4 separate regions of the Homo sapiens genome follow, and regions 1, 2 and 3 are each linked to region 4. Evidence: fine-mapped expression QTL. A gene starts in region 4. Each other region holds a variant in brackets. All regions are shown on one strand. Distances are from middle to middle. Region 1 overlaps EPHA1-AS1 (EPHA1 antisense RNA 1). Region 2 overlaps EPHA1-AS1 (EPHA1 antisense RNA 1). Region 3 holds the start of TAS2R41 (taste 2 receptor member 41). Region 4 holds the start of EPHA1-AS1 (EPHA1 antisense RNA 1).

Evidence for each region. PIP is the estimated chance that this variant, and not a neighbour inherited with it, causes the effect.
Region 1: its variant is the best candidate, but not a certain one, in a credible set for the expression of EPHA1-AS1 in whole blood (TOPMed, PIP 0.51).
Region 2: its variant is the best candidate, but not a certain one, in a credible set for the expression of EPHA1-AS1 in whole blood (INTERVAL, PIP 0.51).
Region 3: its variant is the best candidate, but not a certain one, in a credible set for the expression of EPHA1-AS1 in whole blood (INTERVAL, PIP 0.70).

Annotation. Positions count from the first base shown.
Region 1 is chr7:143,435,785-143,438,529 of GRCh38, reverse strand. All of the region lies in intron 2 of EPHA1-AS1 (EPHA1 antisense RNA 1), which reads right to left. It also overlaps the pseudogene TAS2R62P. Among named protein-coding and RNA genes, the nearest start is that of TAS2R60, 6.3 kb to the left of the region's middle. The variant G/A (reference allele first, on the strand shown) is at 1,479.
Region 2 is chr7:143,494,360-143,497,104 of GRCh38, reverse strand. The region is part of intron 2 of EPHA1-AS1 (EPHA1 antisense RNA 1); the gene reads right to left. It overlaps LOC105375547 (a long non-coding RNA gene), which reads right to left. Exons shown (of 2, transcript XR_928075.3): 1 at 1,709-2,745; 2 at 333-1,139. Among named protein-coding and RNA genes, the nearest start is that of TAS2R41, 18 kb to the right of the region's middle. The variant C/A (reference allele first, on the strand shown) is at 1,139.
Region 3 is chr7:143,477,056-143,479,800 of GRCh38, reverse strand. It overlaps TAS2R41 (taste 2 receptor member 41), which reads right to left and starts at 1,928. Exons shown (of 1, transcript NM_176883.2): 1 at 1,005-1,928. The coding sequence starts at 1,928. The coding sequence ends at 1,005. The region is part of intron 2 of EPHA1-AS1 (EPHA1 antisense RNA 1); the gene reads right to left. The variant G/A (reference allele first, on the strand shown) is at 1,549.
Region 4 is chr7:143,406,786-143,409,285 of GRCh38, reverse strand. EPHA1-AS1 (EPHA1 antisense RNA 1) reads right to left here and starts at 1,473. Exons shown (of 5, transcript NR_033897.1): 1 at 1,400-1,473. EPHA1 (EPH receptor A1) reads left to right here and starts at 430. Exons shown (of 18, transcript NM_005232.5): 1 at 430-562; 2 at 1,608-1,675. The coding sequence starts at 481. RefSeq lists an enhancer at 1-358.

The sequences.
Region 1 (2,745 bases), 29 kb before region 4:
TAAAAATACAAAAATTAGCCAGGCATGGTGGCACACGCCTGTAGTCCCAGCTACTCGGGAGGCTGAGGCAGGAGAATTGCTTGAACACGGGAGGTGGAGGCTGCAGTGAACCGAGATCACGCCACTGCACTCCAGCCTGGGCAACAGAGCAAGACTCCATCTTAAAATTAAAATAAAATATATAAAAAATAAGCTTCAGTTTGCCCACAGAGACAACTGACGACAGCTACAGTTCTCTATAAAGGGCATACAGACCAAAATGATGCTTGGCAAATATTAGGGTTGCTTACCTATAGATTCTTGGGGCCCCATGAGGAAATGAGGCCACCAGCAAAAGTCAAGGTGATTGACGGCTAGGACTAGAGACTCACAGCAGTGGAGGGGATGGTAAGAACACAGACAGCAAGATGGAAAAGGGATTCTGAGGCATGGACAGAGGGGGAGAGAAAGAAGAAACTGGAAAGAGAAAGACAGTACCCAAACCTTATACATTCCTACCAGGATCATTCATCCCAGGACTGGTTACTGACACAGATAACTCAGGAGCAGAACCACCCTATGGCCAGCACCTTCCAAAGCCCTGTGAGCCAGCAGCACGTGGGCACTGGAGCTGAGGCCATGTCTTCAGGCCCTTTTTCAGTTTGGGGCTCCTCAGCACCAGGACGGTAGAGTGCAGACAGATGTTGGCATAGATTAGCACTTACCAGGCCCAGTGCCAGTGATTCTGAAAGTTTATGATTTTCAAAGCAGAAGCAAACAAGGACAGGAAGTACAATGTACAGAAGATGAGGGAAAAGGTGAGTGACTTTAAAGCCATAGTGTAAGCCTGGGTGCTGGGATCACAGGGGCCGGGCCTGAGGTCCCTCATCTACCCCAACTGCCAGCACAGTGAGACTATGAGCAAGACAGTGGACACTAGGAACAGGAGGAACAGAATCGACCACACAAACCCTTCATAAAGGAAAAAGTAGAGCTGAAATGAAGCCTGCACTCTATAAACTAGAGTTTCGTTTCTGTAGGAACTCAGGGAGACCTTCCTCTGACCAAACAGGATGTTCCCAGTGGCTGATGAGATGACTTCCAGGCCACAGATGATCAGGGAGCCCTTGATCAGCTTGGGCACTAACCGAGAGTTCCTCCACTTCAGCCAGGCGAAGGTGGGGTGGGAGAAAGATGAGATCTTCACACAGTAGAAAGCAGCAAGCAAGGCAGTAAACCACAAAGTGAGGGCATTGAAAAGGTCCCAGAAGATGTTCATATAGGGAACTGCACGCGAAAAATCTAAGGAGGCCAGGAGGTTGTTCACCATGGCTACCCCATGCAGGCAGAAACGGGAGGCAGCGAGACAGGCCACAATCATGTCACTTGTGGACAGCATCCGGCACCTTACCCACTCCCTGCCCAGCATTGTGACCAAGAATCCATTCTGCAGCATTGCAGCCAATGACTCCAGGCAAAAGATGGCTATGAAGATCAAC[G/A]TGGGCAAGGAGGGCATCTTCTCCAGGGAGGTTCTGCTAAGTCTCAGCTCCTACTGCAGAGGGCTGGGACACATCTTCAGGGAAAAACAGCCTCTCTGGCTGAGTCAAGCCACCTTGTTGACACCAGAGACTCAGAAGCCCTTGTCCCTGGATTCATAGAAAATCCCAGCCACCAGCAAACACCCCCAGTCCCCAGAATTTGAAAAGATAATTTCTGCAATCTCCTTTGGCATGCAAATCACTCCCAGCTCAATGACACCATCTCTATTTGCATAACCTGTATTTGCCTGTCCTTTCTCAGAGCCAGATGCAGAGAAACATTAACAGAATAGAGGCTGCTGGGGTGACTGAAAATACCCACATTTTGTACATGATGTCTTAACTGTACTATTTCTTTCCTAACTCTTCTTTAAAAGACATTGTTACTCTTATTGCCCTCCCCAAACCAAAAACCTTCCCTTCACGTCCTGCCTTAATATTTTATTCAGTAGCCTCTATACACTGCCTTAGCTCACTTCCCGAATGGGTGGAACAGAAAAATCATTCGCATGCACAAGGCTTCACATTACCAAGAAAAGGCCCCCTAACCACTGGCCTCTCATGCTGCCTAAAATTTCACTGTCAAGCTCCATATTGGAGTTCATGGAATCTCCAGTTAAAATGTGGATTTCTCTGATATGTTACCATCATCTGTTAACTGTTATCCCCTTGGCTCCAGAGTGCTTGATCAACCAAAAGTAATCAGTTCCTAAGAAGCCTCTGAGGAAATGAGAGAGAGTAGATAAATCATAATGAGAAGACGAGAAAGACAGAGAAGGGAAACTGACCCAGAGGGGACATCACCATAGGAGCTGGGGGAAGCAAGAGTTGGTGGAATGACAAGAGGAGCTCAGGGCAAAGCTGGGCCACAGGGAAGTTTTGCTTTATGTGGAGTGAGCCCTGTCCTATAACAATACTGAATATATAATAGTAAAAACCACCCTGCTGAAACACCTTGTCTTTTTTTTTTTTTTTTTTTTTGACAGTCTCACTCTGTCGCCAGGCTGGAGTGCGGTGATGTGATCTCGGCTCACTGCAACCTCTGCCTCCCGGGTTCAAGCAACTCTCCTGCCTCAGCCTCCCAAGTAGCTGGGACTACAGGCATGTGCCACCATGCCCCGCTAATTTTTGGATTTTTAGTAGAGAAGGGGTTTCATCATGTTGGCCAGGATGATCTTGATCTCTTGACCTTGTGATCTGCCCGCCTTGGCCTCCCAAAGTGCTTGGA
Region 2 (2,745 bases), 88 kb before region 4:
CCCAGAAGCCCTGTTGATAAGGAAGAAAAAGAAATATACCACTCTGATATAAGGTAGAACTTCAAATTAATTAAATATTTACCTGGAAAGATCATTTTAAGTTAACAGAGACCATTTATACTGTAAAAAAACTAAGATACCTTTAATTGGTATATTATATTGTTTGCTTTTTGTCTTCTTTCTACAGTACCCAACAGAATGGAGACTCAAGAAAATAATATCATTATAGAAAACAAAATAGCTACGTCTTCAGGGAACATCAGTAAAGAGTATTCAAATTCATTATCCTAGCATATAGACAAGTTGATCTTGAAGTAAAAATTGTCCTGGACTTCATGTTTGCACTTGTAATTTATTAAGGAAAGACTTCTTTTCTAGAAATGGAATGCATAATGCCCGTTCAATGTTAATACATAATAAGGAAATTATGTAAAGTTTCAATTAGATGATTCTTATAAAGCTTTTAGTATTCATTGAATTTTAGTTACTCATCCTCATTAAGTGTTTTCCCCTAAGTCATTTATGAGAAAAGACCAAAGCATAGAAATGCCACTTTAAATTTTTCCTACATGTAGAGATAGGAAACAGAACAGTATTCTAACTCAGTCATGCCAGAGCTAATTCATGATGAGTTGTATCCGAGGCTGTTGAAGCTGCTGTCAAGCATAGCAGTCATCAGTTCCGGTAAAATGCTTCCCAGAAGGTACCTTTTACATTCACTGGGAAAGATGAGGAAACGTTAATTCTGGTAAAAATGGAATGGAAAGAACTGAATGGAAAGGTTAGTAACTGAGAACCAGAAATAGTAGTTCCCTGGGAGTGAACTAAATTATTGCTAGTAACAGGAAACTCTTGAGGCAAGGAGATACTGGGGTGGGGAAGGAGAGAGTAGGAAAGTGGTTAGTGGTGGGGCAGTTCCAAAGGAGTGAAAGAGGGGAAAGACCCAGGTGAGCAGCATGCCTGGGCCCACACAGATATCACAGGAAATCAATTATGTCCAAGGCTGTGGGTCTTTCATTGCCTTCTTTAGTGAAACTCCTGGTATTGGTCAATCTCAAAGGAAATGATTCTTCCCCTCTCAAGTCCAGTTTGGAACTCATGATGGAATGACTTTAGTCTCAGACCTCAGAATCTAGTA[C/A]CTAGAATGAAAGGAAAATGTTGTAATGCACACACTGAAAAACACAGACTTCTGCAGGACCTTGAGGTCCAATTCCACCATTTGGTTTCACAAACAAAGAAACTAAGACCCAGGGAGATTAGGTGACTTGTCAAAAGTCATAGAGCAATTTGTACCAAAGCCGGAGTAAAACCCATTGTCCTGCCTCTAGTCCAGGGTGTTTGCCACCATAGAATATTTCCAGATTTATTTTTTATGGTATAAATAGTCGAAAACCTATAGTTATATCTACTTTGCTGAGATACAGTTTTAATTGTATCTTTCCTTGAATGCTCACTTATGTTGCCCAAAGGCTATTCAGTAGTGCCAGGCATTAAGACAGCAAATTCATTTCCTAATATCACTATCTCAATGCGATACGTCTATATCAGATATGTGAATTTTTTAAATTTCATTTGGATTCCTATGAGAGAAAAAATATGTGTTTATTATAAACATTTAAAAATATTTGTAACAGTTTGTTCTCTCATTGTTATAAAGAACTACCTGAGACTGGGTAATTTATTAAGAAAAGAGGTTTAATTGACTCACAGTTCCACAGACTGTTCAGGAAGCATGGAGAGGAGGCCTCAGGAAACTTATAATCATGGTGGAAGGCGAAGTGGAAGCAGGCACATCTTACACGGCCAGAGCAGGAGGAAGAGAGACAGCGGGGAGGTGCCACACACTTTCAAATAACCAGATCTTGTGAGAACTTAACTCACTATTGGAAAACAACAAGAGGGAAATCTGCTCCCATGATCCAATCACCTCCCACCAGGCCCCTCCTCCAACACTGGGGATTACAGTTTGACATGAGATTTGGGCAGGGACACAAATTCAAGCCATATCAATATTGATAAGCTAAAAATAAGAAAACAAAAATATCTATAATCCTATCACCCAGAGATTAACCCACTGACATTTTATGGTCATCTTGCCTGTTCTTTTTCTACTTTTCAATCTTTATATACATCCAACTGTATATATATTATATTTCCTACTATTTTCTAACCTACTTTGTAAAAAAAAAAATCTAGTTACATATTTTCTGTAACCTTAGTGCTTGGAAAAGTAAGAAGGATGCATTTTTCTTTTTTACCAGCAGGGAAACATTCTTATTAGATGAGAGTAGGAGGTAGTGTGGAGGATGGTTCCCAACAGTTCTTTTCCTTTACACTGGAGTCATCTGTGTCAGCTCATACCGAGTCTGCCTTTGAAGTGCATCAGGGGTCCCACCTCTCAGATGTCATTTTCTTCTTCTTCCCCCTCATGGTGCCCTTGGTTTTCTTTTTACTGCTGCTCTCCTCCTTAACCTTTGGCTACAACTCTCAGTCAGAAGTTCTAGCAGTTTTCTCCATCCACAGACCTTGAGGTGGGGAAAGCTTCAGGCCCTGTGAGGTCCTGAGCTTACCTGGGCAGTGGAAGCAGCAAAGATAAACCCAAGATTCTTCAGGTCTTGCCCAAAGGGGAAGAGCATGAAGTTAAACAACAGTTCCCTAGTCCATTGTCATTACAATGACAAATCTTCCAGGTAAGTAAACCTTTATCTTGCAATATTGGCCAATTGTTATAAAAAAAATTTAGTG
Region 3 (2,745 bases), 70 kb before region 4:
ATCCTCCCACCTCAGACTCACGAGTAGCTGGGACCACAGGTGCACACCACCACACCTGGCTGATTTTTTTGAATTTTTAGTGGAGAGGAGGTCTCGCTATCTTGCCCAGGCTGCTCTTGAACTCCTGAGCTCGAGCAGTCTGCCTGACTCAGCTTCCCAAAGTGTTGGGATTACGGACGTCACCACTCCCAGTCCAGTGAAATTCCTGAGTCTGTTTTTCAGATTGAAAAGTACATGTTTATTCAATGCAGATGTGACTCTGTGACATATGCTTGAGGAAGACAAGAAAGTCACAATGTGTCTTTTTCTAAAGGAATGATAAACAAGAAAAAAGTCTGGCTACTACTCAGACTTCAGAGAAGAGAAAATTGAAGTCAGAAATGTTAATGAGAAAAGAAACTGGGTGGTGTAAAGAAACCTTCCAGTAAACTTAATAAAATTAAAACCAGATTATCCAAGTTTGTGTGGAGACAAAGTATCTTCATGCAGTAAAGGGCAATCAGAACTCACAGCCCAGGCCACTGCCTGCCACAACTGCCTGTCCCTTGGGGCTCTCGTAGTAACCATGACATTTGTCCTCAAGAAGGCTGTCGCTTCACTATCCACATCTCAGTTCAGCCATAGAGGCAAATATTTGCTCTTAACTTTCTGAAAGGCAGTGGAGATGCGATGGCACAGTTAATCAACACTTTTAATCGAAGCCTTCCAGATAACAAAGGGGTACAAACGTAAGGAGTAGCACGACATCATATTAACATATTCTGAACTTCTGGGCAATACTGGCTCTCTGGGATCCATGGGACTGCATCTTTATAACATTCCAAAGAAGGGAAGCATGCTCAGAGAGTTCCCAGATTTCCTTGTCTCCTCCGCTTCCCAGAGGAGGAGCCCCATAACAGTACCCAGTATTCATCTACCTATGAAAACACCTCCATGTCAGTGGGCCACAGCTCTGCCATCCTCACCTTTCTTTTCCGGGGGTCTAGATAAGGAAACCATGCCATCTAGGCCACCCAGAAGCCCCTTGCCAACAACAGGAGCTGCGAGAACACGCTTCGAAGCTTGAGGTTGCTGAAGATGAGGATGAAGGGATGGACAGATATGCACAGGTAGACTGCAATTTGCCATGGCCAGTAAAAGTCGTTCTGCATGGAGATAAATTTTGCGGCATCAATGATCAGGGACAGAAAGGACAGAGCATAAAGAATGAGGAAGGAGATGAGGGACTTCAGAGCTCTGGTGTGAGCCTGGGTGCTGGGGTCCTGCAGGCTGTGCCCGTTGTGCTGCATTCTCTGAGTATGCCTCCTCAGAGAATTAATTAACAGCATAATTGAGACCAGAAAAACAGAAAAAGGAATTGACCAGATGACCAGTTTCAGGGATGGGAAATAGTATGTTTCTATCCTTGTATTCCACTTGTAGGTCATGTTCCCAGAAAATTTTCTAATTAAAAATTCTTGATATACAGGGTAGTTCACCCAAAAAAACAGCAGGGTTATGATGAAGGAGATCAGGACAGAGCCCAACAGGAGCCAGGGCACCCACCCT[G/A]GGAACCTCCACTTCAGCCACAGGAAGGTGGAGTGTGTGATGTTAGCAATCTTCACACAGAACAGGACACTGAGCCAGCTGCAAAACCAGAAGGTGGCTGAGTTCAGGAAGTGCCAGTGTAGATGGAAGAACTGTCGGCCGAGACCCCCAGAGTACTCGACCTTCTGGGCAGAGTAGTAGAAGTTGTGCACCGTCCCAACCAACTGCAGGCAGAAGCGGGAGGCACCCAAGCTAATGAGGATCATATCCAAGGGCAGCAACCTGCCATATCGCAGCCACTCCCTGCCCAGCACCAGCACAATGAAGCCATTCGCTGCAATCCCCAGAAGACTCAGCAGGCTAAAGAGCAACACGAAGAAGGCCGTCAGTGCTGCTTGCATTCTGACCCCTCCTGCAGTCCCCACTTGAGTGCCTTGGTCCCTGGCCTCCTCCCTGCCCCTAGCCACAGTCCTGTTTTTAATCTTTCCTAGGAGTGCTAAAGAGTGGTCAGGCTCTGCATCTGAACCAGAGCTCACTTAGAGAGGAGGATGCTCAGGCTAAAGAGGAGAGGTGTGCTCTTGGCTCAGACAGGATGCAAATTTATCCTAGTGTCAGTTACCACTAGGCCTGCAAATTACCCTAATTTGCCTTGTCCAGTTTTCCTGCATGCTGCCATGGTTAGTATCAATGTCTATGATTTTTCTGGGTCTCTGTGACTGAGTTCCATCCTCAGGCCGTATGAACACTCCTCTTCCCATCAGAACATTCTTAAGACTTTAAATATAGAGACAAGTATAGGAGATACACAGGAAAAATAGTGACATCAAAGAATTCTGTCTCAGTACTTCCCTGTTACACATCCATGCTTACCTTACTGCCTTTGCCCACAAATCGCTTCAAAATCAAACACTTCGTCTACCTCTCCATCCAGATCTCTACTTAGATCCTCCATGAATCCTGAGATGTAAATGATAATGGTGTAAACGGGTTTTGTATTTCCAGTGAGAGAATTCATTATCATGTGGTTGAGGGGCCTTCCGAAGCAGGACTGAGAGCCCCTGTTTCTTCCTGGGTGTTGGTGGGAGACTGCTCTCTGGTCCTAGAGGCCTCTCACAGTCTCTGCCAGGTAAGCTGTTTCAGCATGGCCACTCACGTCAAGTCAGCAGTCTCTAAAGGGAGTCTGCTAACAAGATGGGGTCTTAAATAACATAACACAAT
Region 4 (2,500 bases):
TGTACCCCACCTTGCATTGTGGTCATCTAAGCCTCCCCTGCTAGAGGGTGAAGATATGACTCTTACCCCTTGCCTTCCCCGGCCCTATTACCCAGCTCTGGGGCCTGCACAAAGACAGAAAGAGGAATATAGGAGTGTAATTCAAGTCAGAGGTAGAATTAGGTTAAAAGCTGGATCAAGATTGGGTTGAGTTTAGGATTAGAATTGGGAAAAGGTTCGTCAATTCTTAATCCCACCTACTAGGCGGCGCCCGCAGTCTCATTCGGGTCAAGACGCCTCCGGTTCTTGAATTTGATTACCAGTCTAGCAAGTTTCTTTCCTGCCCTACTGTCCCTTTAAGGAGGTGAACCAGGTGAGGCCGGGACTCCGCCCCCGGCGCTGGCCCCGCCCCCCGCCCCCGCCCGGCCCGCCCGGCTCTCCTAGTCCCTTGCAACCTGGCGCTGCCATCCGGGCCACTGTCCCAGGTCCCGGCCCGGAGCTATGGAGCGGCGCTGGCCCCTGGGGCTAGGGCTGGTGCTGCTGCTCTGCGCCCCGCTGCCCCCGGGGGCGCGCGCCAAGGAAGGTACCGACCCCCGCCCCCGCGCCCCCAACCCCCGCGCCCCGCCCCTTCCCGGGGCCCGGCCAGCACCCCCCTGCAGAAGCCGGCATTCCTAGGGGCCATGTTCCCCGAGACCCTCGCCAGCTCTCTCGCTGTGCCCGACCGCCAGGCTATCGACTGGCCAGGCCCATCTTTGGTCTTTAACCCCAAGCGGCTGCTCTCCCGGGTCAGTCACCCCCACTCCCGCAGGCCAGCAATCTGCTCCTGGGAGTGGGGAGGGAATTCCGGACCCTTGCCAGGAAGTAGCACCTGCACCCGCACCCCTGCCTGCATTCCCAGACAGTCCCAGCTTCAGGTGCCCACCCCAGAGATCTGAGCCCTTGGAAGTTGAAGGTGGGAAGTCGCCTCCTGCCAACCTAGGCCAGGGACAGAGGGAGCTGCCTCCGGGAGAAGGGTTAGGACTGACGCCACAGGGGTTCCCAGTTGTCCGAGTCGAATATTCCATGTGAAAGTTGGAACACCCTCTCCGGCCTTACTCCCCCCCACTTCCCAGGCAGGTAGCTGTGCCTCTTATCCCCACTTCACGGCTCTGATCACTGGCCAGGTCAGGCCAAAGCAGGCTTCGGACAGTGGAGGTGAGCCTCCCTACCCAGGAAACCCCTTCTGAGGTCCCCGGTCCACCCTGCCCACTCCTGGCTAGCAGAGGTGAGCTCCTCCTGCCCTCCACGCGTTCCAATCCTGCAGCTGATGGGTGTCCCAGGACGCAGCAGCCTGGGTAACTGAGCGTCTCGTGGGGCTGCTCTTCTTGCATTGACTTTGGTCAAAGACCCAGCGCCCCAACCCTTGTCCCACTCTACCTGCCTTCCTTCACACACACAAAGAAGAGTGAAATCCCTGGAGCTCTTCACTCCTCAGTCCTGAGCCCTTTTTCTCCCCTAAGCCTCAGGAAGTCACAGCTTTTAGGAACAGGATGTTGCAGCCTGGGGCTGAGGCCCCAGAATGATTAATGTGGGCTGCAGGGGCACCTCCTCCCCCAGAGGTGACAGACTTCTTTTCTCCCCACTTTCAGTTACTCTGATGGACACAAGCAAGGCACAGGGAGAGCTGGGCTGGCTGCTGGATCCCCCAAAAGATGGGGTAAGTGTCGGAAGAGGGAAGGATCTTGGAAAACTCCTGAAGGCCAGTGGGAAATGGGGTGGAGAGGTGGGTGGAGGAACAGAGAAAAGAGCAGGAAAAACTGGAAGTGTCTCCTCAGGGAGGGGGAGAGGAGGCTGAGTCAGAGCCTCCTCAATGGGACAAGGGGTGGGGGGGTCAGACTTCACCTCAAGATGAACGCTTGAATGGCCTGGCTCCTCCAGTGAATACTTGGGAATATTGTGAATACAAGCTGATACTTGTGAGGGGGAGAGGAGCTCACATACCCGGGGAGAGAATGCACCATGCTGGGGATGGTTGAAGGCTGAGACCAGTGCTTTGCTTGGGGAGGGATAGAAAAGGCAGAAAAGCATCCTCAATCTGAGATCCATTCATCCCAATGAAGTTGCATTGATAGGTTTCAGGGGGTGGGGAAACCCCATGAAAGTGTACTCTAAATTCTGTATATGTAAGCGGGCATTTTTTTTTCTGGAGAGACCAGCCAAAGCTTTCATCAAATTCTTCAAAGGGTCTTTGACTCCTCCGAAGTTAAAAGCTGCTCCCCTAAAGGTTTCTGAGCCCTTAGCTCATCCTCCACACCTCCTCAGGCTGACTGCGTGCACACCATGCATTCCAGCTGTTTGAAAGTGTCAGAGCTTGTTCCAGTTCCCTTCCTTCCTTGGATGTTCCTAAGACTCAGTGAACAGGTTGTGAGGTGGGTCTGAGAGAGCATATTCAGACTCAAATGCAGAGAGCAGCTCTTATGATGTACAAAAAACCAAACTCAGTTTTTTCCTACTGCACTCTCAACACAAATCACTTCGGTGA